Linked DNA regions of Homo sapiens: region 2 is linked to region 1. The links come from fine-mapping of genetic effects on gene expression. A gene starts in region 1. The other region holds a variant in brackets. All regions are shown on one strand. Distances are between the middles of the regions.

What was found. PIP is the estimated chance that this variant, and not a neighbour inherited with it, causes the effect.
Region 2: its variant is fine-mapped to the expression of COL26A1 in pancreas (GTEx, PIP above 0.99).

The regions. Positions count from the first base shown.
Region 1 is chr7:101,353,912-101,368,828 of GRCh38, forward strand. COL26A1 (collagen type XXVI alpha 1 chain) reads left to right here and starts at 8,964. Exons shown (of 13, transcript NM_001278563.3): 1 at 8,964-9,279. The coding sequence starts at 9,122. RefSeq lists a silencer at 10,098-10,337.
Region 2 is chr7:101,196,821-101,211,737 of GRCh38, forward strand. It overlaps MOGAT3 (monoacylglycerol O-acyltransferase 3), which reads right to left and starts at 4,216. Exons shown (of 7, transcript NM_178176.4): 1 at 3,926-4,216; 2 at 3,588-3,695; 3 at 3,414-3,484; 4 at 1,806-2,010; 5 at 1,371-1,545. The coding sequence starts at 4,034. PLOD3 (procollagen-lysine,2-oxoglutarate 5-dioxygenase 3) reads right to left here. Exons shown (of 19, transcript NM_001084.5): 12 at 14,771-14,896; 13 at 13,712-13,853; 14 at 13,511-13,624; 15 at 13,273-13,341; 16 at 12,033-12,137; 17 at 10,758-10,904; 18 at 9,959-10,084; 19 at 9,164-9,616. The coding sequence ends at 9,461. It also overlaps the pseudogene DGAT2L7P and the pseudogene RPSAP46. RefSeq lists enhancers at 5,368-6,175, 6,176-6,982. The variant T/C (reference allele first, on the strand shown) is at 8,092.

The sequences.
Region 1 (14,917 bases):
AGTACTTTGGGAGGCTGAGGCAGGCAGATCACCTGAGGTCGGGAGTTTGAGGCCAGCCTGACCAACATGGAGAAACCCCAACTCTACTAAAAATGCAAAATTAGCTGGGCGTGATGGCGCATGCCTGTAATCCCAGCTACTTGGGAGGCTGAGGCAGAAGAATCGCTTGAACCCAGGAGGTGGAGTAGGGATAATGACAATCACTACCTTGTCCATGTCAGCATCTCTATGAGCAGTTGAGGACACAAGGGCCAAGAAAGCACTTTGTGAACAGACAGCCATGTTTGTCCAGCTTCCATTTTAGTGGGGATATGGGGGGTGGTTATGTGGTAACCAAATGTCACCAAGGAAAGGAGGAGGAAGGAGAACTGAAACCTGGGTCGCAACTCCAAAATCTTTTTTTTTTTTTTTTTTTTTTTTTGAGATGGAATCTGCTCTGTTGTCCAGGCTGGAGTGCAGTGGCGCGGTCTTGGCTCACTGCAACCTCTGCCTCCAGGGTTCAAGTGATTCTCCTGCCTCAGCCTCCCAAGTAACTGGGATTACCATGCTCCACTAATTTTTTAATATTTTTAGTAGAGATGGGGTTTCGCTGTGTTGGTCAGGCTGGTCTCAAACTCCTACCTCGGGTGATCCACACACCTCGGCCTCCCACAGTGCTGGGATTACAGGCGTGAGCCACTACGCATAGCCCAAAACCTTTTTTGAGACACGGTCTCACTCTGTCGTCCAGTCTGGAGTGCAGTGGGTGATCACAGCTCACTGCAGCTGCCAACTCCTGGCCTCAAGCGATCCTCCCGCCTCAGCCTCCCAAGCAGCCGGGATTAATTAACAATTACTCAGCTATTTTTTTTTTTAGTTGTTTTTGTAGAGATATATTCTCACTATGTTGCCCAGGCTGGCCTTGAACTCCTGAGCTCCTGCCTTGGCCTCCCATGGGCATGAGCCACTGTGCCCAGCCCAAATCAAGGCCTTTAATGCTAGATGTCTCTGGTTCTTGGGAATAATGGCTTCTGCCTTTCCAGAAGTTTTGCATGGATTTAGACAATGGCAAGGGCACAGTTTTGAAATAGAGACAAGTACTTGTGTGGAATATCGGGACTCCGAGGGGTGGAGGTGGCAGCTGTCGTGACAACAGCAGCTAACATTCTTTTTTTTTTTTCTTTTTTTTTTTTTTTTGTGACAGAATCACTCTGTCACCCAGGCTGGAGTGCAGTGGCATGATCTCGGCTCACTGCAACCTCCATCTCCTGGGCTTAAGCAATTCTCCTGCCTCAGCCTCCCGAATAGCTGGGATTACAGGCATGAGCTACCACACCCGGCTAATTTTTATATTTTTTGTAGAGATGGGGTTTCACCATGTTGGCCAGGCTGGTCTTGAACTCCAGAGCTCAGGGATCCGCCCACCTCAGCCTCTCATGCCTCCCATGTGTAATCCCAGGCGTGGGATTACAGGCGTGAGCCACTGCGCCTGGCCTGCAGCTAACATTCTAATGTAGAAAACTTGGCCCTTTGGAGGACTCTGTTGACTACTTGATTTTAGGGCTGTTCAATTCTCCCACTTTTACTGTTCACCATATGTGTGTTTTTTCATTAAAAACAATGCAAATTCCTTGAGAGGCTGAGGCAAGGAATTCGAAACCTGCCTAAGCAACATGGCCAGACTCTGTCTCTATGAAAAACAAAAATAGCAAATTAGCCAGGCTTGGTGGTGCATGCCTGTAGTCCCAGCTATTCGGGAGGCTGAGGTGGGAGGATTGCTTGAGCCTGGGAGGTCGAGGGTTATAGTGAGCTATGATTGTGCCACTGCACTACAGCCTGGGCAATAGAGCAAGACTTTGTCTAAAAATAAAATTGGCTGGGCACGGTGGCTGATGCCTGTAATCCCAGCACTTTGGGACGCTGAGGTGGGTGGATCATTTGAGATTAGGAGTTTGAGACCAACCTGTCCAACATGGTGAAACCCCGTGTCTACTAAAAATACAAAAATTACCTGGGCGTCGGGGTGGGCACTATAATCTCAGCTACTCCAGAGGCTGAGGCAGGAGAATTGCTTGAATCTCAGCTACTTGGGAGGTTGAGGCAGGAGAATTGGTTGAACCCAGGAGGCAGAGGTTGCAGTGAGCCGAGATTAGACCACTACACTACCAGGGCTTCAAAGCCAGACTCCGTCTCAAAAAAAAAAGTAAAAATATAAAATGAAATAAAAATAAAAAAGGGAACCTCATCTCGTATGCATCTGTGCAGTCTGCCAGCTATCTTTTTTTTTTTTGAGACGGAGTTTTGCTCTGTCGCCCAGGCTGGAGTGCAGTGGCGAGATCTCGGCTCACTGCAACCTCTGCCTCCCGGGTTCATGCGATTCTCCTGCCTCAGCCTTCCGAGTAGCTGGGACTACAGGCGTGCGCCATCATGCCCAGCTAATTTTTTTTTATTTTTAGTAGAGACTGGATTTCACTCTGTTGGTGTGGCTGGTCTCGATCTCCTGACCTCAAATGATCCACCCTCCTTGGCCTCCCAAAAGTGCTGGGATTACAGGCGTGAGCCACCACGCCCGGCCGCCAGCTATCTTTTTAATGCCTTCTGAAATAATATTGTAAGCACTTGGAGGGTGGGTACCAGGCTATTTGCATTTTCAACATCCCTTCGCTGCACCCAGCACAGAGACGGGCACATAGAAGTGGCTTGTTATATGCTTACGGGCCAGAATGAACCTATTGTCCTGGACATGAAGAAGAGGACCAGGCATGGTGGCTCACACCTGTAATCCCAACACTTTGGGAAGCCAAAGCGGGTGGATTCCTTGAGGCCAGGAGTTCAAGGCCAGCCTGGGCAACATGCCAAAACCCTATCTCTATTAAAAATATAAAAATCAGCTGGGCTTGGTGGTGCATGCCTGTAGTCCCAGCTACTCGGGAGGCTGAGGTGTGGGAGGAATGATGCTCAGGAGGTCGAGGTGCAGTGAGCTGAGATGGCACCACTGCACTCCAGCCTGGGAGACAGAGGCACGGTTTAAAAAAGATGAAACTCAGATGACTGTCTTATTCCTGCAGTTTCTGGGATGTATTCATGCTTGTCCTAAAGACTTTCATCCTAGGCTGGGCACAGTGGCTCACGTCTGTAATCTCAGCACTTTGGGAGGCTGAGGTGGGCGGATCACCAAAGGTCAGGAGTCCAAGACCAGCCTGGCAAACATGGTGAAACCCTTTCTCTACTAAAAAAAAAAAAAAAAAAAAAAATTAGCTGAGTGTGGTGGCAGACGCCTGTAGTCCCAGTTACTTGGGAGGCTGAGGCAGGAGAATCACTTGAACCCAGGAGGCAGAGGTTGCAGTGAGCTGAGACTATACCACTGCACTCCAGCCTGGGCGATAGAGCGAGATCCAGTCTCAAAAAAAAAAAAAAAAAAAGAGGCTTTTGTCCTAAAATACTCTAGCACTATATGGAGTAATGTTATTCCTTTGTCTCCCTGTTTCTCCATGGTCACTCTAGCTTGGGTGCAGCCCCTGGCACTGGAAAAATGAGTTGAAGATAATAAACGATATTGCTGTTCCCTTACCGTGATGCCCAGCAGCATAAAGCCCGGTTGACAGCAACATGGAATATGGAATTTCTCTGCTCTTTAAGATCTCATTATGCGGGGAAGGTGGAAGGAAGAACGCTTACAAATTCCTGGGGGGGGATGACCTCATCATTTATTAGGTGTTGGCCAACTGCCCAAGGAGCACAGTTCAGATTCTTTTTGGGGGAGGCACTGAACATCCCCTGATAACCTAAATTCTCCAAATCTTTTAGGCCTCAAGGGAGGGAAGGAGGGCGAGAGGAACGAAGCAATTCCATTAGGAGGCTGTTTACTCCTAGATGACCAACTCTGAGTTTAAGACAGAGACTTGGGACTTGGGAAGTATGGACATTCCATTTATTTATTTATTGAGACAGAGTCTTGCTCTGGAGTGCAGTGGCGAGATCTTGGCTCACTGCAACCTCCGCCTTTCAGGTCCAAGTGACTCTCCTGCCTCAGCCTCCTGAGTAGCTGGGAATTACAGGCGCCCGCCACCACGCCCAGCCAATTTTTGTATTTTTTTTTTTTTTTTTTTTAATTTTTATTTTTTTTATTGATCATTCTTGGGTGTTTCTCGCAGAGGGGGATTTGGCAGGGTCATAGGACAATAGTGGAGGGAAGGTTGGCAGATAAACAAGTGAACAAAGGTCTCTGGTTTTCCTAGGCAGAGGACCCTGCGGCCTTCCGCAGTGTTTGTGTCCCTGGGTACTTGAGATTAGGGAGTGGTGATGATTCTTAACGAGCATGCTGCCTTCAAGCATCTGTTTAACAAAGCACATCTTGCACCGCCCTTAATCCATTTAACCCTGAGTGGACACAGCACATGTTTCAGAGAGCACAGGGTTGGGGGTAAGGTCACAGATCAACAGGATCCCAAGGCAGAAGAATTTATCTTAGTACAGAACAAAATGAAAAGTCTCCCATGTCTACTTCTTTCTACACAGACACGGCAACCATCCGATTTCTCAATCTTTTCCCCACCTTTCCCCCCTTTCTATTCCACAAAACCGCCATTGTCATCCCGGCCCGTTCTCAATGAGCTGTTGGGTACACCTCCCAGACGAGGTGGTGGCTGGGCAGAGGGGCTCCTCACTTCCCAGTAGGGGTGGCCGGGCAGAGGCGCCCCTCACCTCCCGGACGGGGCGGCTGGCCAGGCGGGGGGCTGACCCCCCCACCTCCCTCCCGGACGGGGCGGCTGGCTGGGCAGAGGGGCTCCTCACTTCCCAGTAGGGGCAGCTGGGCAGAGGCGCCCCTCACCTCCCGGACAGGGCGGCTGGCCGGGCTGGGGGCTGACCCCCCCACCTCCCTCCCGGACGGGGCGGCTGGCCGGGCGGGGGGCTGACCCCCCCACCTCCCTCCCGGACGGGGCGGCTGGCTGGGCAGAGGGGCTCCTCACTTCCCAGTAGGGGCGGCCGGGCAGAGGTGCCCCTCACCTCCCGGACGGGGCGGCTGGCCGGGCGGGGGGCTGACCCCCCACCTCCCTCCCGGACGGGTCGGCTGGCCGGGCGGGGGGCTGAGCCCCCCACCTCCCTCCCAGACGGGGTGGCTGGCCTGGCAGAGGGGCTCCTCACTTCCCAGTAGGGGCGGCTGGGCAGAGGCGCCCTCACCTCCCGGACGGGGCGGCTGGCCGGGCGGGGGGCTGACCCCACCTCCCTCCAGACGGGGCGGCTGGACCGGGCGGCTGACCCCCCACCTCCTCCCGACGTGGCTGACACCCCCACCTCCCTCCCGGACGGGGTGGCTGGCCGGGCAGGGGGCTGACCCCCCCACCTCCCTCCCGGACGGGGCAGCTGGCCGGGCGGGGGGCTGACCCCCCCACCTCCCTCCCGGATGGGGCGGCTAGCCGGGCGGTGACCGCCCCCACCTCCCTCCCGGATGGGCTGACCCCCCCACCTCCCTCCGGACGGGGCGGCTGGCCGGGCCGGGGGGCTGACCCCCCCACCTCCCTCCCGGACGGGGCGGCTGCCGGGCGGAGACGCTCCTCACTTCCCAGACGGGGTGGCTGCCGGGCAGAGGGACTCCTCACTTCTCAGACGGGGCGGCTGCCGGGCGGAGGGGCTCCTCACTTCTCAGATGGGGCGGATGCTGGGCGGAGGGTCTCCTCACTTCTCAGACGGGGCGGCTGGGCAGAGACGCTCCTCACCTCCCAGACGGGGTCGCCGCCGGGTAGAGGCGCTCCTCACATCCCAGACGGGGCGGCGGGGCAGAGGCGCTCCCCACATCTCAGACGATGGGCGGCCGGGCAGAGACGCTCCTCACTTCCCAGATGGGATGGCTGCCGGGAAGAGGCGCTCCTCACTTCCTAGATGGGATGGCGGCCGGGCAGAGACGCTCCTCACTTTCCAGACTGGGCAGCCAGGCAGAGGGGCTCCTCACGTCCCAGACGATGGGCAGCCAGGCAGAGACGCTCCTTACTTCCCAGACGGGGTGGTGGCCGGGCAGAGGCTGCAATCTTGGCACTTTGGGAGGCCAAGGCAGGCGGCTGGGAGATGGAGGTTGTAGCGAGCTGAGATCACGCCACTGCACTCCAGCCTGGGCACCATTGAGCACTGAGTGAACCAGACTCCGTCTGCAATCCCGGCACCTCGGGAGGCCAAGGCTGGCGGATCACTCGCGGTTAGGAGCTGGAGACCAGCCCGGCCAACACAGCGAAACCCCGTCTCCACCAAAAAAGTATGAAAACCAGTCAGGCGTGGTGGCGCGCGCCTGCAATTGCAGGCACTCGGCAGGCTGAGGCAGGAGAATCAGGCAGGGAGGTTGCAGTGAGCCGAGATGGCAGCAGTACAGTCCAGCTTCGGCTCAGCATCAGAGGGAGACCGTGGAAAGAGAGGGAGAGGGAGACCGAGAGGAGAGGGGAGAGGGGAGAGGGGAGAGGGAGAGGCAGAGGCAGAGGCAGTACAGTCCAGCTTCGGCTCGGCATCAGAGGGAGACCGTGGAAAGAGAGGGAGAGGGAGACCGAGAGGGAGAGGGGAGAGGGGAGAGGGAGAGGCAGAGGCAGAGGCAGGGGCAGGGGCAGGGGCAGGGGCAGGGGCAGGGGCAGGGCTAGTTATCCAATTTTTGTATTTTTAGTAGAGACGGGGTTTCACCATGTTGGGCAGGCTGGTCTCGAGCTCCTGACCTTGTGATTTACCTGCCTTGGCCTCCCAAAGTGCTGGGATTACAGGCGTGAGCCACCATGCTTGGCCATCTTCCTGTCGTCTTCTAACAACAATCCTACAATCCTTCTTTGAGGGGAGAAGGACAGGCTCAGTATGTAACCCAGGCTGAAGTGTCATGGCACCATCATGGCTCACTGCAGCCTTGAACCCTTAGGCTCAAGCAATCCTCCTGCCTCAGACTCCTGAGTAGCTGGGACTACAGGCACACACCTCCACGCTTTGCTTTTTTTTTTTTTTTGTAGAGATGGGGGGGTCTCACTATGTTGTCCAAGCTGGCCTCGAACTCCTGGCCTTAAGCAATCCTCCCGCCTCAGCCTCCCAAAGCATTAGGTCTTTGTTGTTTTGTTTTTTGAGACGGAGTCTCACTCTGTCCCCCAGGCTGGAGTGCAGTGGCATGATCTCAGCTCACTGCAACCCCGGGTTCAAGCGATTCCCCTGCCTCAGCCTCCTGAGTAGCTGGGATTACAAGTGCATGCCACTACGCCCAGCTAATTTTTTCTATTTTTTTAGTAGAGACAGGGTTTCACCATGTTAGCCAGGCTGGTCTTGAACTCCTGACCTCAAGTAATCTGCCCACCTCAACTTCCCAAAGTGCTGGGATTACAGGCGTGAGCTACTGTGCCCGGCTTCCAAAGGATTAGGATTACTGAAGTGAGCCATTGCCACTGGCCTCTACAATCCTTTTGCAAAATGTGCTCCAGTCCAGCAAACACTTCCATATTTGATGGTTTTTCTCCATCCTGTAGGCATTTTACAGACAGGAGTTTTCAACTGGTCACAGGGGCAGAGCAAGCCTCAGGGCATCTGCACCCTTAGGTTGCTTTTGGAAGAATTAGGAAAAAAGCTCCCAGGCCGGGCTAGGTGGCTCACACCTGTAATCCCAGCACTTTGGGAGGCGGAGGTGGGTGAATCACCTGAGGTCAGGAGTTCGAAACCAGCCTGGCCAACATGGCGAAACCCCGTCTCTACTAAAAATACAAAAATTAACCCGAAATGGTATTGCTTGCCTGTAATCCCAGCTACTCGGGAGGCTGAGGCAGAAGAATCACTTGAACCCGGGAGGCAGAGGTTGCAGTGAGCCGAGATCGCACCACTGCACTCCAGCCTGGGTGACAGAGCGAGACTCCAACTCAAAAAAAAAAAAAAAAGAAAAAGAAAAAAAAAAAAAGGAACAAAATGCTCCTAACCCGGGCGAGTAGAGTACGGGCTGGATTTCTGGTCCCACCTGGGCCTGGAGCAGGGTCCAAGCCCTATGGGAATCCTGCAACATAGAAAAGACCAAAACTTGGGTCCAGGCTGGCCTTGGGCCCAGCATGGGATCTAGGACTCTGCTTTTCTGTTTATAAAAGGTGGGATTGTCCTACATCTTCCTGAAGCCCTTTTCTGGATAGGATGTCTCATGAATCTGTGATTCTAGCTACAACTTTTTTCTTTTTTTGAGATGGAGCCTCACCTTGTCATCCAGGCTGGAGGCCAGTGGCCTGATATTGGCTCACTGCACCCTCCGCCTCCTGAGTTCAAGTGATTGGCTTGCCTCAGCCCAGCCTGTAGTTGAGATTACAGGCACCTGCCACCACACTAGGCTAATTTTTGTATTTTTAGTAGAGACGAGGTTTCACCATGTTGGCCAGGCTGGTCTCGAACTCCTGACCTCAGGTGATCCGCCCACCTCGGCCTCCCAATCTAGCTACAACTTCTCACCCCAACTGACCCTTCCGCCCCTCCCAAAGCTTCTTACCTGGAAGAGACAGCGGGGCAGGTGGGGGCTGGAGGTTAAAGGGGAAGGAGGAGAATCCTGGGAAGCTCTGGTCAGTTTCTCACGGGAACGCAGCGCTTTGATCCAAAGAGCCCTGCACAAGGATCGGAAGACTCGCATTTGTCTGGCTTAACTTTCTCCAGCCTCAGTTTCCACTTCTGAATGGGACCATCGAGGGCAGTGTGGCGAGGATTCACCAACATCGTCCAGGTGAAATTGGCAGACACAGAATGGGCGCTCCGAAAGCATTCGCGGACCCGAAGAAGGTTTGGTTTCAAAGGTTCTAAGGTGTGTAGCGGGGGCCTGGGCGCGAGGTCTGGCTTTCGGGGTGTTAGGCTCCAGGGACCTCCTGCGGAGCTCGCACCCTAGCTCTGCCGCCACTGCCGCCTCCTCGGCCCCGGACCGCCGAGGGTTAACAAAAAAGCCCCACGCCCCCTTTGACGGCTTAGAGCCCACCTCGCCGAATTTGAAAAGGCGGCCCCGGAGAGGCGTGGGCGCCCCCCACACATTTCCAGCTCGCACCCGGGCTCCGACCGCTCGCCCCGCTCCTCTCGCTGTGCTCCCGGCCGGTGCCGCGGGTTCGGTCCGGGCGCCGGTGCGCTCCTGCCGGTCCTCGTGCCCGGGACTCCGGGTCCCCGCGGGCTGCTGCGCACGATGAAGCTGGCCCTGCTCCTGCCCTGGGCGTGTTGCTGCCTCTGCGGGTCGGCGCTGGCCACCGGCTTCCTCTATCCCTTCTCGGCCGCAGCTCTGCAGCAGCACGGCTACCCCGAGCCCGGCGCCGGCTCCCCTGGCAGCGGCTACGCGAGCCGCCGGTGAGTAGCTCGGGGCCGAGGGGCCGGGGGGTGGGGGGAGGGAGCGGACAGCGGGGGCCCTGGCCACTGGGTGGCTGGAGCGAGGCTTGGGGGCTGGAGAGCGGGGCGATCCGGGACTTGGGGGCGCAGGGCAGCGGGGACTGGGGGCTGCAGACACCGGGCAGCTGGAACGAGAGCTGGAGGGGGTTGGGGTGCGGGGCGATTCGGGCCTGGGGGCGCGGGGTGGCGGATGCCAGGGGCAGGGGACACGGGGCAACTGGGACGAAATGGCGGTGGCTGGGGGTTGGGGTCACGGGGGGAAAGACCGAAGGGCCTTGGGTGCAGGGCGATTGGGGGCTGGGGCGCGGGGCGGCGGGGGTTGGGGGCTGCAGACGGGGCAGCTGGAACGAGCGATGGAGGAGGCTGGGGGTTGGGGCCGCGGGGCTGCGGGGCTGCGGGGTTGCGGGGGCTGAAGGTTCGGGTCCGGCTCCGGGGCTGCGGTGGTCTCTGGCCGCGCCCACCCTGTCCCTTCCTTTCTTCGCTTCCCCAACCTTCGCCCCCTCGTTCCGGGCTCCGAGTAGAGGTGGTTCCGACCGCCGTGGCTGGGGCTGGGGCTCTGCCCGGGGCGTTCGGCCGCTCACGTGGCTCTGCCGCTCACCTGCGCGGCTGCGGCTTTGTGTCGCGGAGCAGGTTCTCGGGTGGCCAAGGCCTCGCGTCCCGGGCACCCCTCTCCTATCAGCGGCCCCAGGACACCAGAGGGGTCATTCCCGCCCAGTCTTTGGGGCTGAGGCCGCGGAGGATCCTCGGCTGCGACTCCCCAGCCACCCCGGGACGTGGAACCGGCTGGGATCGGGTGGCTCCGTGGCGGGGTTGGAGAGGGCGCAGGGTCACCGGGCCCGGGCGCCGGGACCCGCCAGGCGTCTCCTTCCTCTCGGCCGGCAGGTGGCGCCATGGCCACCCCCGGGACGCTCAGGGCTGCGGCTCCGGAGCCCGCATTTGAATTTCCCCAGAAAACCATAAGCATGCAAGTAAAAGTTGCCAAACGCCTCGTTTGCATAACTCGCTTGAATTTAGCTTTTCTCATTTAGTGATAACTACAACCTACACAGCTATGACAGCGCTCTGGAATGCACTACCTGTGTCTGTTCCCTCCGTCTCTTTTTTATATTTTAATTTTTTTTTTTTGCAGAGGCAGAATCTCAACTCTGTTGCCCAGGCTTGTCGCAAACTCCTGGGCTCAAGCGATCCTCCCGCCTTGGCCTCCCAATCTCCATTTCTTTTGATCCTTAACAACCCTAGGGTTAAAACATTAGAGTAGTATCTTTCCTTTAGCTGAAGAAACAGAGGCTCAGGATTTGCTAGGCCTAGGAGCCACTCAGGACTGACCTCTTGTGCTTTCTTTCTTTTTTTTTTTTTTTTAATATAGGGTCTTGCTTGCTCCCCAGGCTGGAATGCAGTGGTGCGATCATAGCTCACTGCAAACCTGATCTCCCAGGCTCAAGTGATCCCCCGACCTTGGCCTCCTGTGTAGCTGAGATCACAGGTGTACACCATCATGACTGGCTAATTTTTTGATTTTTTGTAGAGGTGGGATCTCACTGTGTTACACATGCTGGTCTCAAACTTCTGGCCTCAAGAGATCCTCCTGCCTCGGCCTCCCAAAATGCTGGGATTACAGGCGTGAGCCACCACGCCAGGCCCAGATCTGGTGTTTTCTAGCATACTGCTCTGCCTATCAAAGCTAAAAGACAGCTCCTAGTTCTTTTTTTCTCCTTGATATTTACCAAATCAGAGGACTCCAAGATGATTTCTGGCTAATTCCTTAATAACAAGGAGACAGGGATGTTTCATGCTGGGAAGAAATATACAGTCATGGCTGAATAGGGCGGGACCCAGAAAAGCATAAAAGTGCCTCTGGAAAAGTTTGTATGCAATCCTATTTCTCTCATTTTGTTTGGAAATACTTACCCGGGGCTTCTATGAGGAGCATTCTCCAAACACCCACGCTAGTGTGGCCTCTGCACAGTTCCATATGAGGATTGTCTAAAAAACAAGCTTTTCAAGTTACAGAATAATATATACAGCACGATTTCATTTATGAAAAGGAAAATCAGATCTACATCTAGGTAGATAAATGCCTGAAAAAAGTTTCTAGGAAACCATTTCAGCAGTTAATGTTATGAAGAAGTCTAGGGCTGGGCCAGGGGACTGTCCCATTTTCCCTCTGTCTGCTTGTGGCTTGTCTGAATGTTTTTCTGGTTTCTGTGTTTTTTTTGAGACAGAGTCTCGCTCTGTCTCCCAGGCTGGAGTGCAATGGTGCAATCTTGGCTTACTGCAACCTCTGCCTCCCAAGTTCAAGTGATTCTCCTGCCTCAGCCTCCCAAGTAGCTGGGATTACAGGTGCCCACCACTGCGCCTGGCTAATTTTTGTATTGTTGGCCAATAAAAAATGTAACGTTGGCCAGGCTGGTCTCAAACTCCTGGCCTCAAATGATCTGCCTGCCTCAGCCTCCCGAAGTGCTGGGATCACAGGCATGAGCCACTGTGCTTGGTCCCTAAGAGAACCTACTGGCCGGTACGGGGATTGAATGGATGTTTTGCAAGGAGCGTATATTCATGTAATACTTTTGTAATTAAAAGGTGTGGGAAGGAAAAAAAAAAAGGTGTTTGCAGCCTGAAATACGCCTGCAAAAAAGCAAGAGGTGAGGACCATGAAGAGCGGGAGCGAATGGGGACCTCATTCTGGCATTTGGTGGGTTGGAACTTGGGGACATCTGCAGAAACTTGGAAGGGATCATTTTAGCACAAACAAAAAGAGGCTCAAACAAGTGTGGAATCTTCCAGAACTCTTTCCACCAGGATAAGAACAGGGAGAGGATATAATTAGGTTTAGGGAGGATGTGGATGAATCTGTGGGCAATGGATTCCTAAAAAGGATACCAGAAGGTGTTGGGGAGGCTTGGGGCACATTGATATTCCAGAGTGTGACTGAGTCTCTTTGCCCAGAAAGCCCAGCGTGGGCATTGCAGGCACCTGGTTGTTGCCTGGGTGAGTTACAGGCTGGAGCTGGCTTGGGCGTCACATGTTTCTGTGTCTCATGAGCTATCTATCACAAGTGTCCCTTGTCCTTGAGATCCAAGATGTCCAGAAGCTGAAGGCTTGGGGACAGCAGTGGTCCTTGCAGCCTTGGCCTTCAGTAGTGTGTTTACCGGGGCTTGGCTTCAGTTGACAGGCAATGATGACAGGGCTGTTTCTTGACAAAGAGTGCTTTAATTTCATTGTTACTGCTCCTTGTTAACGTCTGATTTTTTTTTTTTTTTTTTTTTTTTTTTTTTTTTTTTTTTTTTTAAAGACAGGGTCTTGCTCTGTCACCCAGGCAGGAGCGTAATGGTGCAATCATAGCTCACTGCAGCCTCGACCTCCTGGGTTCAAGCAATCCTCCCACCTCAGCCTCCTAAGTAGTTGGGACCATAGGCATGGGCCACCATGGCTGGCTAACTTTTAAATTTTTCATAGAGGTGGGGTCCTGCTATGTTGCCCAGGGTGGTCTTGAACTCCTGGCTTCAAGTAATCCTTCAGCTTTGGCCTCCCGAAGTGTTGGAATTACAGGTGTGAGCCACTGTGCCTGGCCAAAAAGCAGTTTTTAATTGTTAGTTTGTTCAAATCAGGATCTAAATAAGTCTGCTTATTGGTTATTCTGTCTTTTCTCTCCCTTTTAGTGTAGGAAAGTCTTCCCCCTTTGAGAGAGTACTTTTTCCTCCACGCTGTTGACTTGTTGAAGACCAGTTGTTCTCTGCGATGTCCACGTACTAGATTTAGCTATTTCCTTCCCAGTGGTGTAGTTAACTTGATCTGCAATGTCCACGTACTAGTTTTGACTAATTGCTTCCCAGTGGTGTAATTAATTGGATCCTCTGCCCCCTGTATCTCTTCTATTTTGGAAGTTAGGTTGGAAGGTTTGATTAGATTTATGGTCTCTATTTGGGCTTGCTGGGAGAGACAGAAATTCTTCATAGGTGGTCTAGTCTACCATATTATATCAGGAGATGCTCTGGACTGATGTGTGTGTCCCCACCAAATTCATATGTTGAAGCCCTATCCTCCAATGTGGTGGTATTTGGAGGGGGGACCTTTGGAGGTAACTAGATTTAGATGAAGTTGTGAGGGCTGTGCCCCATTATTTGATTAGGGATGTTATAAGAACAGGAAGAGAGGCCAGGTGCGGTGGCTCATGCCTGTAATCTCAGCACTTTGGGAGGCCCAGGTGGGTGGATCACCTGAGGTCAGGAGTTTGAGACCAGTCTGGCCAACATGGTGAAAACCCGTGTCTACTAAAAATACAAAAATTAGCCGGGCGTGGTGGTGCACACCGGTAGTCCCAGCTACTTGGGAGGCTGAGGCACTAAAATCGCTTAAGCCCGGGAGGCGGAGGGTACAATGAGCTGAGATCATGCCACTGCACTCCAGCCTGGGCAACAGAGTGAGACTCTGTCTCAAAAAAGAAAAAAAAAAAAAAAAAGAAGAAGAGAAATCAGAGCTCTCTCTCTTTGCCATGTGAGGACACAGCACAGCAAGAAGGTGGCTGTCTGCAAACCAGAAAGAGAACCCTCACCAGGAACTGAATCTGCCAGCACCTTGATCTTAGACTTCCCAGCCTCCAGGGCTATGAGAAATAAATGTCTGCTACTTAAGCCATTCAGTCTGTGGTATTCTGTTACGGCAACCTTGAGCTGACTAACAGAAGGATGTGGCTTTATTCTGGAAAGCTGGGTGTTAAATATTCAGCAGAACACCACTGTCTACAAGTCTCCTCCACTGTCTCCCTTCTTTTTGTTGCAATTTATTTGTTGAAGAAACTTGGCCTTCTAGATTGTTCCTTTTTCAGGATTTTGTTGGTTATATGCTCATGGTGCCTGTGAACATGTTCATCTGTCCTCTTTATTTCCAGATAATGGGAAATTAGATCAAGAGCTTGGTTGGATCTAGTTCTTCCTCCTCCTTCGTTTTCTATTTTGGCAGAATTACATCTTGGGTGCTGTAGTGTTTTTCCATTGGAAATCACAACGTCTGGTTGTCTCTCTTTTTCTCTCGTGATGCTTGAGGTGTTGGTGATCATTGCGTATGTCATTCTTTCATTAAGGATCGCAAAGTGGATGCAAGACAGGCAGGCCCCCAAATTGGGGCTTAGCCAGGAGGGTTCTTGGCTTCACCCAGGAAAGAATTCAAGGGTGAGTGGGTGGTTTCAGACAGCAACTTTAATTGATGTGGCAGTGTACAGCTGCAGCAGAGGTCCTGCTCCTTGCAGAGCAGGGATACCCCATAGGCAGTGTGCCCAGACTAGCAGCTCAGAGGCAGTTTGGCACTATTTATACTTACTTTTAACTATATGCAAATTAAGGGGCAGTTTATGCAGGAATTTCTAGGATGAAGGTGGTAACTTCTAGGTTGTTGGGTTGTTGCCATGGAAAGGCATGGTAACTTCCGGGTGTTGCCCTGGCAAATGGTAACTGACATGGTGCCCTGGTGAGTGAGTCTTATGGGGATGTGCTTCGTCCTAACCTGTTTTAGCTAGTCCTCAATTTGGTCCGGTGTCAACCCCAACCTCCAGAGTCAAGTCCCGCCTCCTACTTCAAAGTAGTACTATAATTTTGACTCTTTT
Region 2 (14,917 bases), 160 kb before region 1:
ATCACACCACTGCACTTCAGTCTGGGTGACAGAGTGAGACTTTGTCTCAAAAAATAAATAGGCTGGGTGCGGTGGCTCATGCCTGTAATCCCAATACCTTGGAAGGCTGAGGTGGGTGGATCACCTGAGGTCAGGAGTTCGAGACCACCCTGACCAATATGGTGAAACCCCATCTCTACTAAAAATACAAAAATTAGCCAGACGTGGTGACGTGCACCTGTAGTCCCAGGTACTTCAGAGGCTTGAACTCGGGAGGTGGAGGTTGCAGCGAGCCGAGATCACACCACTGCACTCCAGCCTGGGTGACAGAGCAAGACTCCATCTCCAAAAATTAAAAATTAGAAAATTTTAAAAAATAAATAATTTAAAAAATTTTAAAAGAGACAAGGCCTTGCTCTCTTGCCCAGGCTGGAGGGCAGTGGTGCAATCATAGCTCACTGCAGCCTCAACCTTCTCCGCTCAAGCCATCCTCCCACCTCAGCCTCCCGAATAGCTGAAACTTCGGGCGTGCACTACCACACTTGGCTAATTTATTTTATTTTATTTTTGTAGAGATGATGTCTCCCTATGTTGCCCAGGCTGGTCTTGAACTCCTGGCTTCAAGTGATCTTCCTGCCTTGGCCTCCCAAAGCACTGGGATTGCAAGTGTGAACCACCACGCCCAGCCGGGACTCACATTTCTTGAGACACAGTTGTGTAGTGGGCCTTCTCATAGTCATTTTCTCATTCGGTCTTTGCAATAACAACATCGTGGCAAGGTAGGTATCAGCCCTCTTCGCAAGTAAAGAAACAAGTCCGGCCGGGCACGGTGGCTCACGCCTATAATCCCAGCACTTTGGAAGGCCAAGGTGGGCGGATCACTTGAGGCCAGGAATTCGAGACCAGCCTGGCCAAAATGGTGAAACCCCGTCTCTACTAAAAATACAAAAATTAGCCCGGAGTGGTGGTGGGCGCCTGTAGTCCCAACTACTCGGGAGGCGGAGGTTGCAGTGAGCCGAGACCACGCCTTTGCACTCCAGCCTGGGCGACAGAGCGAGACTCTGTCTCAACAACAATAACAAAAAAAGAAACAAGTGCAAGGTCTTGCCTTTGAGTTGGGGTCAGAGAGGGAAGCCAGGGCTTCTGAGACCGAGGGCCCTGCTATTTGCATTATGGTCCTGTCTCCACGGATGTGGGAGGGAGCTTAGGGTAAGCGGGCCCCATGTTTGGTACCGAGTCATGCCCTGGAGAGCCCACGTGGGCCTCGGTGCAGGGCAGGGCGCTGGTCTCTGGGCACCCGGATCCCCCATGCAGGGACCTAGATGTCTGGGGACTGAGAGAGGGCATAAACCAGCAGAGAACTGACAGGTAGGGCCTGCACGCGCACTCACCCGTGCCTCAGCGCCAGGCGCACGAAGCCTTTGCGCTTCTGGAGCGTAAGGCAGTGCTCCCCGGGGACTGAATACAGGGCCTCGTGCGCACCCCCCACCATGATGACCACGGCCTGCCCGAGCTGGGGCTGGGACAGGATGAAGTCCAGGCTCTGGCGGCTCACCGGACAGAGTCCTGTGGGCAGGAGGAGGTGGAAAGTAGTTCCCATCTGCCTCCACGGCACCCCCGCCCCTCACCCAGCCTTTAGTTCCAAGCCCCCTACCCCCATCTCCAAGGCGGGGAACCTACCCAAATGCTCACTGCAAGTCTGGGCAGTGCTCAGGCTGGCCCCTGTCCTGGGTGGGGGACTTATTATGGGGGGGGGTGGTCCCAGAGGGGCTGGGGAACATCTGGTCAGGAGTCTCCTCCCGTTCTCCTCCTCCCATTCGGCTCACCAAAGGACATGATGTAGTCGCGATAGACCGGGAGGTAGAAGAGGCCAGCCAGCACGGCTAACCAGGGCCGGAGCCCCGGGAAGAGCTGGGAGAAGCCATTGCTCTCGGTGGAGAAATTACAGAGGAAGCCTGTACACATGATCCCATGAGGGTGGGCGCCCAGCACGTAGTTCCGATCCGGGGGCAGCTCTGCTGTTTTCACCAGCTTCGGGGTGTTGAGCAGGATGAAGGGAGGATGGAAGGCAAGACACCGGCTGAAAAGAGGGGCCCTCCACCCCAACAGAGTTCCGAGTTAAAGGTTCTTAGGATAGGGTCAAGGGCCACCCCAGCAGAGTTCCGAGTTAAAGGTTCTTAGGATAGGGTTAAGGGCCCAGGTTTTTTTTTTTTTTTTTTTTGAGATGGAGTCTTGCTCTGTAGCCCAGGCTGAAGTGCAGTGGCACGATCTCGGCTCACTGCAACCTCCGCCTCTTGGTCCCGGTTCAAGCTATCCTCCTGCCTCAGCCTCCCGAGTAGCTGGGATTACAGGCATGCGAAACTATGCCCAGCTAATTTTTGTATTTTTAGTAGAGACGCAGTTTCACCATATTGGCCAGGTTGGTCTTGAACTCCTGACCTCGTGATCTGCCTGCCTTGGCCTCCCACAGTGCTGGGATTACAGGCGTAAGCCACCTCACCCACTCTCTCTTTTTTTCTTTTCTTTTTTTGAGGCAGAGTTTTGCTCCTGTTGCCTAGGCTGGAGTGCAATGGCATCATCTCAGCTCACCACAACCTCCGCCTCCCTGGTTCAAGCAATTCTCCTGCCTCAGCCTCCAGAGTAGCTGGGATTACAGGCATGTGCCACCATGTCCGGCTAATTTGTTTGGTATTTTTAGTAGAGATGGGGTTTCTCCATGTTGGTCAGGCTGGTCTCGAACTCCTGACCTTAGGTGATCCACCCACCTCAGCCTCCCAAAGTGCTGGGATTAAAGGCTTGAGCCACCACAACCGCCTTTTTTTTTTTTTTTTTTTAGAGACGGTCTCACTCTGTTGCTCAGGCTGGAGTACAGTGGCGCAATCATGGCTCACTACAGCCTCCAACTCCTGGGCTCAAGCAATCCTCCCACCTCGGCCTCCCAAAGTGCTTGGATTACAGGCATGAGCCATGGTGCCCCACCAAGGCCCCGCTCTTGAACATCATCCACTCCCAGGCCGGGCGCGGTGGCTCAAGGCTGTAATCCCAGCACTTTGGGAGGCCGAGGTGGCTGGATCACTTGAGGCCAGGAGTTTGAGACCAGCCTGGCCAACATGTTGAAACCCTGTCTCTACTAAACTACAAAAATTAGCCAGGCATGGTGGCGGGCACCTATAATCCCAGCTACTAGGGAGGCTGAGGCATGAGAATAGCTTGAACCTAGGAGGCGGAGGTTGCAATGAGCTGAGATTGCACCACTGCACTCCAGCCTCGGTGACAGGAGACTCAGTCTAAAAAAAAAAAAAAATCCATTCCCTGTCCCACTGCCTGAGCTTAGGCAGCGGGGAGCTCAGGCCCCAGCACAAGGAAGGGCTCCTAGGTGTGGGAGGGAGATGGGGAGAGGTAGGAAGCAGTTTTTCTGCAGGGTGACCCATCACCTTGACAGGATAATAATCCCTTAGTTGTCTCCAAATTGCCCGGTTCCTTATCCACTCCGAACGCCTTCCACCTGCGGACAATGAGATACTGGTGGACGAACCCCCGGAGTCACCTCCCCTCACCCCCCATGTCCCCACCATCTCTGGCTACCTGGGCCCCCATCCGGAGCTCACCTTGGTTGGGTGTGTCCCAGTCCACATAGAGCCACACCAAGTAAAAAACAGAGAAGGGCCAGAGTGACGTGAAGAGGAGGACAAAGACAAGAAGGGAGAAGAAAGGGCCTGGGGGAAGGGAGAGAAAGAAAAGAGTTCACTTCTGAAACTCCATCATTCCCTCCAGCTGCTCCCTTCCCTTCCTCCCCTTCAGAACAACCAGCTCTCTCCTCTGGCCCTCTCCCAGACCAGTCACCTGGTCACTGTCCTCAGGCATGCAAGCCAGCAGCCCAGCCACTCTCCCTCCAAGCCCTACTCCCCTGGCAGACCCCAGGCACCCACGCCTCCCCAGCTCTCACCCATGAAGAGGAAAGTGAGCACATATTGGTAGGCGCCCACTGCTTCTAGATGCTGCTTCTGCAAGGTTTTGGAAGTGGTTGGGGGCTGCAGGGTTGTGGCAACTCCCATTGCAGAAGCTCCCCTCTTCCAGCAGGATCCCAGAACCCGGAGGACAAACGATGAAGGCTTGGATGTGGACCTGGGCAGACTTTCTCCCTACAGGAGCCCAGCTTTGGGGGCCTGGCTAAGTCGCAAATCACCTCCCAGAGTAGCGTGTGTCCGTAGGTGTGTGAGTGGGGAGATCTTTGGATCCAGAGCCCCAGATGTCTCTGGGTTTTTTCTCAGCCTGATCTTTGAACTTCCTGTCAGTCACCAGTCTGGGCTGGCTGCTGGGTGGGGCTGGGAGGCGTAAGGGGTGTGCAAGGGAGAGGTGACACCCGAGTGCCTCAGGAATTGATGTTGGAGTGGACAAGAGTGATCTGGCTAGCCCCACCCACTGGGTCCCAGGTGCTGGAAGGGGCCAGAAGCCCTGCTGAGACTATTTGACCTCCAGTCGGGGTGGGGGCAGGGCCTGGTCCGGGGCATCTCCAGGAATGTCAAGGTCACCACCCCTGCCTGGACCTCCCCCGCCATGCACAAACACACACAGGCTGCAGGTCTGTTTCCCACTTTAATTTTTTTCTTTTTCTTTTCTTTTCTTTTTTTTCTTTTTTTTTCACACGTCTCGGTCACCCAGGCTGGAGAGCAGTGGCACGATCTCGGCTCACTGCAACCTCCGCCTCCCGGGTTCAAACGATTCTCCTGCCTCAGCCTCCCGAGTAGCTAGGATTACAGGCGCGCCACCACGTCTGGCTAATTTTTTTTTTTTTTTTTTTTGGATTTTTAATAGAGATGGGGTTTCACCATGATGGCCAGGCTGGTCTCGAACTCCTGACCTCAAGTGATCCACCCGCCTCGGCCTCCCAAAGTGCTGGAATCACAGGCGTGAGCCACCGTGCCCTGCCGCCAGTCTTTAATTTCACTTCCCCACCTGCAGTCACCCAGCGGACAGGCGAGGCCAGGCGGTGGGGCGCGCCTCCGTGAGGACCAGGTGTCTGTCGGCGGGGACACCATAGCGCGCCTGGTGCTCCTCGAAGAGCTGCGTGAGTCGCCCCACGTAGCGCGCTTGCAGCGTGTCCACCTGGGCCGGACTGGGCGGGGGGCTCTGCTGCACGGGAATCGCCGACCCCACTGCGGGCGGGACGGGAGGCGATCTGGGCTGGGATCCCCGGTTCTCCTCCTCTTTTCCTCCTTGGGGATAGGCGGGAACAGAGTTCAGGGCTGGCGCGGTGGCCAAAGGCCAGTCTGGGTGGCCCCAACCCGGGACGGGGAGGGAGCGGGCCCTGGGCCAGGATCGCGGGGCGGAGGCCGGGGCTCACCTACGGTGCGGATGGGCGCGCGGAAGGGCAGCGGGAGGCCCCGGCGGCCCAGGAACAGCTGCAGGGCCACGCTTAGCAGCGGACGCAGAGCCTCCTGCGTCCTCTGCACCCACGAGCTCTGCGGGTTCGGGAACTGCTGGAAGAGCTCATTCTCCCTGGAGAAGACAGGCACTAGGGAGGCCGCAGGAGAGCATGGCGCGGCTGACTCCTGGCCCCGGGGTCCGCGGGTGGCGCCACTCTCCTCCTCCCCGGCCCGGCAGCCCTGGGGCGTCCCCACCGGGTCACGCTCGGGTCCTCACCCGAGTTCCAGAGCTGACTTAACCAATCTCTTCTGATTCCGAATCGGCAAGCTCAGTTGTCCGGGTTTTGCCTCCAGCGCCTGCAGGGGCCCTCCCACGCCAGGACAGCCACCTGGCCACCACTGAGGCAGCGGGGCCTTGACAAAGGAGACCAAACCTGGGGGGAGGGCAGAAGCTGGGGGACCCAACGCCTGGGTCTTATTTACTTATTTATTTAGGGACGGAGTCTTGCTCTGTTGCCCAGGCTGGAGTACAGTGGCCTGATCTTGGTTCACTGCATCCTTGACCTTCAGGGCTCAAGTGACCCTCCCACCTCAAGCCTCCCAGTAGCTGGGACCACAGGTGTGTACCACCACACCTGGCTAAATTTTTGTTTTTGTTTTTTCTTGTGTAGAGATGGGGTTTCACTGTGTTGCCCAGGCTGGTCTTGAACTCCTGGCCTTAAGCGATCCTCTCGCCTGCGCCTCCCAAGTGCTGGGATTACAGGTGTGAACCACCGCACCCAGCCAAAGCCTGGGACTTGGAAAGAAGAGTGGAGAGGACATGGGGAAAGGAGAGCTGGGCCCCAGTGTCCCCTGGGAAGAGGATGGTGGGGCGGGAGACAGCAGCAAGGTCCTCCTCTTCTCACCACCTGACATGATGTAGTCCTGGAAGAAGAGGAGATGGAACCAACAAGGCAGCATGAGCAGGTGTGGCGGGAGTTTGGGGAAGAGGCAGGAGCAGCCCGTGGGCTCTGTGCAGAAGTTGGCGAAGGCTCCCACGACCAGGACCCTGTGAGGGTGGAAGTCAAAGAGGTAGTTCCAGGAGGTGCCCAACTTTGCAGTTTTAACTAGCTGGGGAGCAGACGGGCGCACCCCACCCCAACGGTGAGATTGCACTTTGGGAGATGGTGGTCCCAAGAGTCTATTCTGAAGCCCCAACCGCACCCAGCACCCCACAGCCCAGGTCCTCACTGAGAGGGGGAAGTAGTCACAGAAATGTCTCAAACTGCCCAGTTGCAAACCCAGGCAGATCTGCGGGCTCCAGCCCTGGGTATGTTTCTATCCCAATAGAGCCAGACCAGGTAGAGGACCGCCAGCATCCAAGCCCAGCCGAGGAATGCAAGAGCCAGGCTGCCAGGTGCACCTGGGCTGGAAGATGGGGCAGGGGGAGCTCACAGTACAGGTGTTTAAGACCATTCAGTTGTTGCTCCTACCCATCCAGTGGCCTGAGTGGTGGGAGCTGCAGACCAGTCTTCTGTGGCAGGCTGAATGCTCCAGTCTTCAGTAGGGAACTGCTAGATAGCACAGAGGGCACCTGCACGCCTTCAGACCAGTCTGCAACCTCAGGTTGAGTAGCAGTGAACTCAGGAGCCGGAGCAGTCCATTCACCCTGAAATTCCTCCTTGTCACAGCCTTTTCAGCAGCAGCCTGCTCTTCTTTTTCAATGTCTTCATGATCTCTGTAGAAGTAGAGATCAGGCATGACCTCCCACGGGTGTTCACAGGAAATGGTGCCACGCATGCGCAGAACTTCCCGAGCCAGCATCCACCACATCAGACCCACTGAGTGAGCTCCCTTGTTGTTGCTTGGGATGGCAATGTCCACATGGCGCAGAGGAGAATCTGTGAGACACAGAGCAAGGTAGGTAGGTTAACATAAGATGCCTCTGTGAGAGGCTGCTGATCAGCCCTGGGGTCAGTAAACACAAGAAGCCGTGGCTCCCGGAAGGCTGCCTGGATCTGGTTAGTGAAGGTTCCAGGAGTGAAGCGGCCAGCGATTGGAGTGGCTCCAGTGGCAGCAGCAAACTTCAGCACGGCCCTCTGGCCAGTATTTCTGGAGGGTATGACACTGACATCAGCGGGGTTTTCAATGGCAACAATGCCACGAGCTGCCAGCAGAAGCTTCTCCCAGGTCCTCTTCAGATTTGGGATGTAGATGCCATCACTTTTCCTTTTATACATGTACTGTTCCATCTGTAAGTCAAGGTTGGTGCCACCTAATTGGTTTCCTGCTGCAAGGAAATTAAGGACATCTTCCTCCTTCATTTGCAGGACATCAAGGGCTCCGGATGTTGTGAAAGTTTCTCTTTAAGTTACAACAGGAATCCAGAACAACGCCGGATGGAGCCCTCTGTGGGTAGCGTGGAAAGCTTTTTTTGTTTTGTTTTTTTGTTTTGAGACGAAGTCTTGCTCTGTCACCCAGGCTGGAGTACCGTGGCACGATCTTGGCTCACTGCAGCCTCCGTCTCCTAGGTTCAAGCAATTCTCCTGCCTCAGCCTCCTGAGTAGCTGGGATTACAGGCCTGTGCCACCACACCTGGCTAATTTTTGTATTTTTAGTAGAGACAGGGTTTCACCATGTTGGCCAGGCTGGTCTCAAACTCCTGACCTCAAGTGATCTGCCTGCCTGCCTCGGCCTCCCAAAGTGCTAGGATTACAGGCGTGAGCCACTGAGCCCGGCTTATTTATTTTTTTGAGTTGGAGTTTCA[T/C]TCTTGCTGCCCAGGCTGGAGTGTGATGGCGCGATCTCAGCTCACTGCAACCTCCCCCTCCCAGGTTCAAGCAATTATCCTGCCTCAGCCTCCCAAGTAGCCGGGATTACAGGCGCCCGCCACCATGCCCAGCTAATTTTTGTATTTTTTAGTAGAGATGCGGTTTCACCATTTTGGCCTGGCTGGTCTTGAACTCCTCACCTCGTGATCTGTCCGCCTCAGCCTCCCAAAGTGCTGGGATTACAGGCATGGGCCACCGTGCCCAGCTTAATTATGTATTTTTTAAGTAGAGACAGGGTTTCACCATGTTGGCCAGGGTGGTCTCAAACTCCCAACTTCAGGTGATCCATCCACCTCAGCCTCCCAAAGTGCTGGAATTACAGGCGTGAGCCATCGCGCCCAGCTAATTTATTTTTTGTAGAGATGGGGGGGGTCTCGCTATGTTGTCCAGGCTGGTCTTGAACTCCTGGCCTCCAGTGATCCTCCGCCTGCCTTGGCCTCTGAAAGTACTGGGATTATAGGTGTGAGCCACTGTGCCCAGCCTGGGAAGTCCCTCTTTTGGTCTGTGCCCTCTCATGCACTTTTTTTTTTTTTGAGATGGAGTCTCACTCTGTGGCCCAGGCTGGAGTGCCGGGGCACAATCTCAGCTCACTGCAAGCTCTGCCTCCCGGGTTCATGTCATTCTCCTGCCTCAGCCTCCTGATTAGCTGGGACTACAGATGCCCGCCACCACGCCTGGATAATTTTTTGTATTTTTAGTAGAGACGGGGTTTCACCGTGTTAGCCAGGATGGTCTGGATCTCCTGACCTCGTGATCCGCCCCCCTTGGCCTCCCAAAGTGTTGGGATTACAGGCGTGAGCCACCGCGCCCGGCCCCTCTCACACACTGTCTCCAGCTCAGGCAATACAGGGGAAGGGGAAAGTGGGAGCCAGGGAAGCTCCCAGGTTCCCACGAGGGTCTAACATTCTGCCTCTCCCTTTTCCTCTTGTCTTCGCTTTTCTGGGTCTCTCCCCTCTACGCTGCTGGCAGGAGGGGAGATGGGGTTAATGGGCAGACCAATGGACTCAAGACTTACAAACTGTCCTTTATTCAGAGTGAGACTGCGGAACATTAATAATTTATCACGCGGGGAGTCCCCAGAAGCCCTGTGCCCACGAACCCCTGTGGGCGGAGGAGAGAGGCGGGGACTCCGGGAGCTTCCTGAGAGGGCCGTGTCTTGGGAGCAAGGTGACATATTCAGTTCAGGCACGCGGAACATGAACTCAGGAAGTGGGGAGACAGAGAGACCCATCCCCCAACTCCCAGGACGGGGGCCAGGCCCCCTAAAAAGGCACAATGGCAGGGCAGGTTTGGCAGAGTGGTTGAGTGTCAGGGGTCGACAAAGGACACCATGATGTAGCGTGTGCCCCAGGTCGTTGGCAGCCCCTCGTGGTAGTGGGTGAGGCGGCCGGGGTGCAGGAGTGCCCAGCCCTTCCTCGGGGAGGAGATCACACAGTCGTAGCGCAGGAAGCGGCAGCCACCTCCCTGGAAAGAGAAGGGAAAGGAAACATGGAGTGAGCAGACGTGGGGCCTGGGGAGCAGGCAGATACACGGGGCAGGGCGGCCAGACCGGGGGGCACGGTGCAGCAGACCGGGGTGACAAGGGAGATGGCAGATATGGCAGACACCGGAGGCTGGGGTGCCTGCAGACAGGAAGATCCAGGAGGAAGCAGAGGCCGCCTGCCCAGAAGCGATCCAGGAGCTGATACCCACAAAGTCACTGGGAAATGGGCAGGGAGGGGAGCTGGGGGATGCACGCAGGGGCTCTAGGTGGGGACCCGAGGGTCCTGAGGTGAAGCGTGGGTGGGTAGTGTGACTGGGGCGCACCTCATAGTCCAGGCCCTTGTGGTTGAGGGCAACGTTGAGGGTGAAGGTGGATGAGTCGTGGTGTGGCCGCAGAGACGGCTGCTCGTCTGGCCGGTAGCGAACCACAAAGTTCATCACCGCCCGCGCCTGGGGGAGAGGAGGGAAGAGGCTGCAGGGACAGCTGCGGGCGCAGGGGGTCTTTTATTTTGTATTATTATTATTCTTTTGAGATAGTCTCGCTCTGTCACTCAGGCTGGAGTGCAGTGGTGCGATCTTGGCTCGATCTTGGCTCACTGCAACCTCTGCCTCCCGGTTTCAAGCAATTCTCATGCCTCAGCCTCCCGAGTAGCTGGGATTATAGGCACCTGCCACCACACCCGGCTAATTTTTGTATTTTTAGTAGAGACGAGGTTTCACCATCTTGGCCAGGCTGGTCTTGAACTCCTGACCTCAGGTGATCCACCCACCTCAGCCTCGCAAAGTGCTGGGATTACATGTGTGAGCCACCACGCCCGGCCATCGCAGGGTGTCTTCAGGGAGATGACGGTCCCTGTCCAGGGAGGGGAGGGGAGGGGCGGCGGGACCCCTGCGTAGGAGGCTCTCGCTGCTCACTGGCATTAAATTAGGGCCAAGCCTCACCTTGGGTCTCAGCCTGGCGCCCTCCCTCCCCTGGGGTGCCTCCTGCAGCGTCTCATTCCCCTGGGAACTAAAATGCATGGAGCCCAAATGCTGCCGGGGCCGAAAGGGGTCTGCGTGGAGACTTCCTGTCCGGGACTGGGGTGGGGAAGGTGGGGAGGCAGCTGGCAGGTGGGCAGCGCACCTTGGTGTGGTAACCGGGAAACAGGCTCTCGGTCATGGGGCCCACATACGTCCGCAGCAGCTGCAGCCACTGGTCCTCGTACCCCACCTGCTTCATGTGGATGTCCACGGTGGGCACATTCTCGTAGCCTCCAGCCAGCCTTGAATCCTGGGGGCGGCGGGCACTGAGCCACCCGCCCCTCCAGCCATGGCGCTCCCCACCCCAGGGCAGTCCAGCCTCCTTCCTCCCGTCCTCCAGCCTTCACACCTGTGTTCCTCTGTGCAGAACAGTCTTCTTTGCTACTTCTCGGCCTGACTCACTGCTCCCGGCCCTTCAAGTCTCAGCTAAGATGTCACCTGTCCTGTGAAGCTCCCTACTCCTCCCAAGTCTGGGTCAAGGCTTCCCCGTGGCTTCTATTGCACCCAGGCTGCTCATCGCAGCCTTAGAAGCTGTGTGGTGGCTGCTGCTCACAGCAGGGCAGAGCTCGACCGGCATGAGGCATTCCTGCAGTGCAGTCTAGGACAGTGGCCCAGGAATGATTTCCTTTTCTCTTTTTTTAGAGACAGAGTCTTGCTCTGTCACCCAGGCTGGAGTACTGCGGCATGATCATAGCTCACTGCAGCCTCTAACTCTGGGGCTCAAGTGATCCTTCTGCCTCAGCCTCCTGAATAGCTGGGACATGCCACCATGCCCGGCTAATTTGTTGGTTTTTCTGAGATGGAGTTTCACTCTTGTTGCCCAGCCTGGAGTTCAATCTTGGCTCACTGCAACCTCTGCCTCCCGGGTTCAAGCAATTCTACCTCAGCTCCCGAGTAGCTGGGACTACAGGCGCCCGCCACCATGCCCGGCTAATTTTGTGTTTTTAGTAGAGATGGGGTTTCTCCATGTTGGTCAGGCTGGTCTCGAACTCCTGACCCCAGGTGATCCACCTGCCTCGGCCTCCCAAAGTGCTGGGATTACAGGCGTGAGCCACCGCACCTGGCCCAAACTCGGCTAATTTTTAAATTTTTTGTAGAGACAGGGTCTCGCTATGTTGCCCAGGCTGGCCTCAAACTCCCCCTGCTCGAGCAATCCTCCCGCCTCAGCCTCCCAAAGTGCTAGGATTACAGGCATGAGCCACTGTGCCCAGCAGTAAATATTTCTTGAATACATGAATGAATGCAGTTGTGACCCCAGGGTCTGCCTCCCCCCTGGGAACCCCTCTTTGCTCCCATTTTCCTGATTCCATTGTTTGTTTACCAGATCCTGCACCTCCTCCTCTGGGAAGGCCTCTGCCCTCCTCGCCCAGGCCCTTACCTCATGCCGGCCGCCTGACCACTGGCCGTAGTGCTCCATCTCTGCCACCAGCTCATCACACATTTGTTCTGACAGCAGTGGGAACCAGTACACGTCCGGGCATGGCTGAGGATGGGGCGAGGGAGAACAGGGCTAGCTGACGCCGCAGAACGGGGAAGGGGACAGGCAGCAGGCAGAATGGGAAGGGGCAGGGAGGAGCAGGGAAGGCTTTGTGAGAGCAGCCGGGGACCCGCCAGGTAGGGGCTGAGGGAGTGGCAAGGCTGAGGACCGGTTTCTGGCACAGGAGAGGTGGCAGAGGGTCCTGGAGCCCCTCGTGCTGGGACAGTGGTTTCCAAACTTCCGTAACAGTGCATACCTCTTTTTTTTTTTTTTGAGATAGGGTATTGCTCTGTCAACCAGGCTGGAGTGCAGTGGCACAATCATAGCTCACTACAGCCTCGACCTTCTGGGCTCAAGCGATCCTCCCGCCTCAGACTCCCAAGTAGCTGGAACTACAGGCACATGCCACCATGCCAAGCTAATTTTTTCTTTTCTTTTTTTTTTGAGACAGGGTCTCGCTGTGTCACCCAAGGTGGAGTGCAGTGGCGTGATCTTGGCTCACTGCAACCTCTGCCTCCCAGGTTCAAGCGATTCTCCCACCTCAGCCTCCCGAGTAGCTGGGACTACAGGTGCACGCCATCACACCTGACTAATTTTTGTGTTTTTTTTTTTTTTTTTTTTGGTAGAGACAGGATTTGCCATGTTGGCCAGGCTGGTCTCGAACTCCTGACCTCAGGTGATCTGCCTGCCTCGGCCTCTCAATGTACTGGGATTACAAGCATGAGCACCACTCCTGGCCTCATTTCTTATTTAATTTTTTTGTTGTTGTTGTAGAGACAGATTCTCGCTATGTTGCCCAGGCTGGTCTTGGACTTCTGGCCTCAACCGATCCACCCACCTTGGCCTCCCAAAGTGCTGGGATTACAGGCATGAGCCACTGAGCCCAGCCCCATTCTTCTTTTAAGATGTGATTTCAAGCATAACACCAGTATACCCAATATACAGGAGAAGAGGCTGTCTGATCAATGCTGGCTTTGGGGGCAAGAGTCCTTTCTGTTCGGCCTCTGCCTTCATCTTGTCTGAACAGAAAACCCTCAGATCTCTGGGGAACTCAGTGTGAAAACTTTGAATCCAGGCGGGGGCCCCCAAGAGGCGATGGCCATGAGGGCAGGGGGTGGGTGGGGAGGCTGCGTGGGCTCACCTGCTCCACGATTCCTTCCCCTTCCAGGGCCCGGCTGTAGTTCTCGTGGATGTACTGCTCCTTCCAGTCCTGTGAGAGGGTGGGGGGCACATCAGATCTGTGCCCCCCTCGCTCCCAGCCCCCAGGGGACCGCCCCCTCCCACTCAGTGTCCTGCGCTGGCAGCAGCCATCACGTTTGGTGTCTTCCTTAGCACAAGGCGGGGAACCTGTGTGCTCTGGGCGTGGGGTCCCCACTCACGACGGGGTTGTCGAAGATCTGCCAGAGGTCGGGGTGCAGGTGCTCCGTGTCGTATCTGGAAGTGGCCAGGAGCCGGCCAAATTCATGCTGATTGCTCAGATGGAGGAAGATGCCCTGTAGTGGGGTGGGGGTGTCCGTGATGCAGGCGATGCCTGGAGTCTGGGGGACTGCCCCCAGGCCAGACCGTGCACCCGCGCTCACCTTGTCTCGAAAGCTCTTACAGAAGGCCATGTCCGGGTCTGTGTCACTGCCCGAGAACACATCCCTCTGGGGCAGCTCCATCCGCAGGGTATCACCCCGGATCACATAGGCCTGGGAGATGTATGGTACATTCCACACACCCCTGGAGGCACCGACACCGCGGTCAGCTGGGAGGACAGCCCCCCAAATTCTGCCCAGCTCATCCCGGGAAGTCCTTCTTCCCTCAGGGTATCCCAGTCCCTGAACATAAGGCCCCTGCATGTCCCTTGTCAAGCACTGCTGGTCCCAACCACCCCACCTCCCAAAATGCGGTCAGTTCCTACCCCAAGCTGTGGCACTTCTTTTTTGTTTCTTGTTTTTGGTTTTTGAGACGGAGTCTTGCTCTGTCACCCAGGCTGGAATGCAGTGGTGTGATCTTGGCTCACTGCAACCTCCACCTCCCAGGTTCAAGCAATTCTCCCACCTTAGCCTCCCAAATAGCTGGGATTAGAGGTGCCAGCCACCATGCCCGGCTGATTTTTGTATTTTTGGTAGAGATGGGGTTTCACCATGTTGGCCAGGCTGGTCTCGAACTCCTGACCTCGAGTAATCCACCTGCCTCTGCCTTCCAAAGTGCTGGGATTACAGGCGTCAGCCACCGCGGCCGGCCCTTGTTTTTTATTTTCTTGAGAAAGGGTCTCCCTCTGTTTCCAGGCTGGAGTGCAGTGGTGGAAACATGGCTCACTGCAGCCTCAACCTCCCAAGTTCAAGTGATTCTCCCACCTCAGCCTCCGTAGTAGCTGGGACCACAGGCACGCACCACCGTGCCCAGCTAATATTTTAAGTTTTTTGTAGAGATAGGCTCTTGCTACGTTGCTCAGGCTGATCTTAAACTCCCAGGCTCAAGCAGTCCTCCTACCTCAGCCTCCCAAAGTGGTGGCATCAAAAGTGTGAGCCACTGCAGCCAGCCTCATGGCACCTCTGACTGGTGACCACTCCAAACCCCTGAGAGTAGGGGGCTTGGGTCTACCTGGGCCCCGGGTCGGAGGAGGCGGGGGGCTGCAGGCTGGCGGGACTCACACTCGCTTCCGCTGCACCAGCTCCACGTAGTCCTCGGAGCGGGCGTAGTACTCATCGGGGCTCAGGGCGCCCCAGAAGTTGGACCACAGCTTGCCGTGGCGGGACAGCATGGGGGCGATCACCTTCCTGCGGACAGGTGGGGGTGAG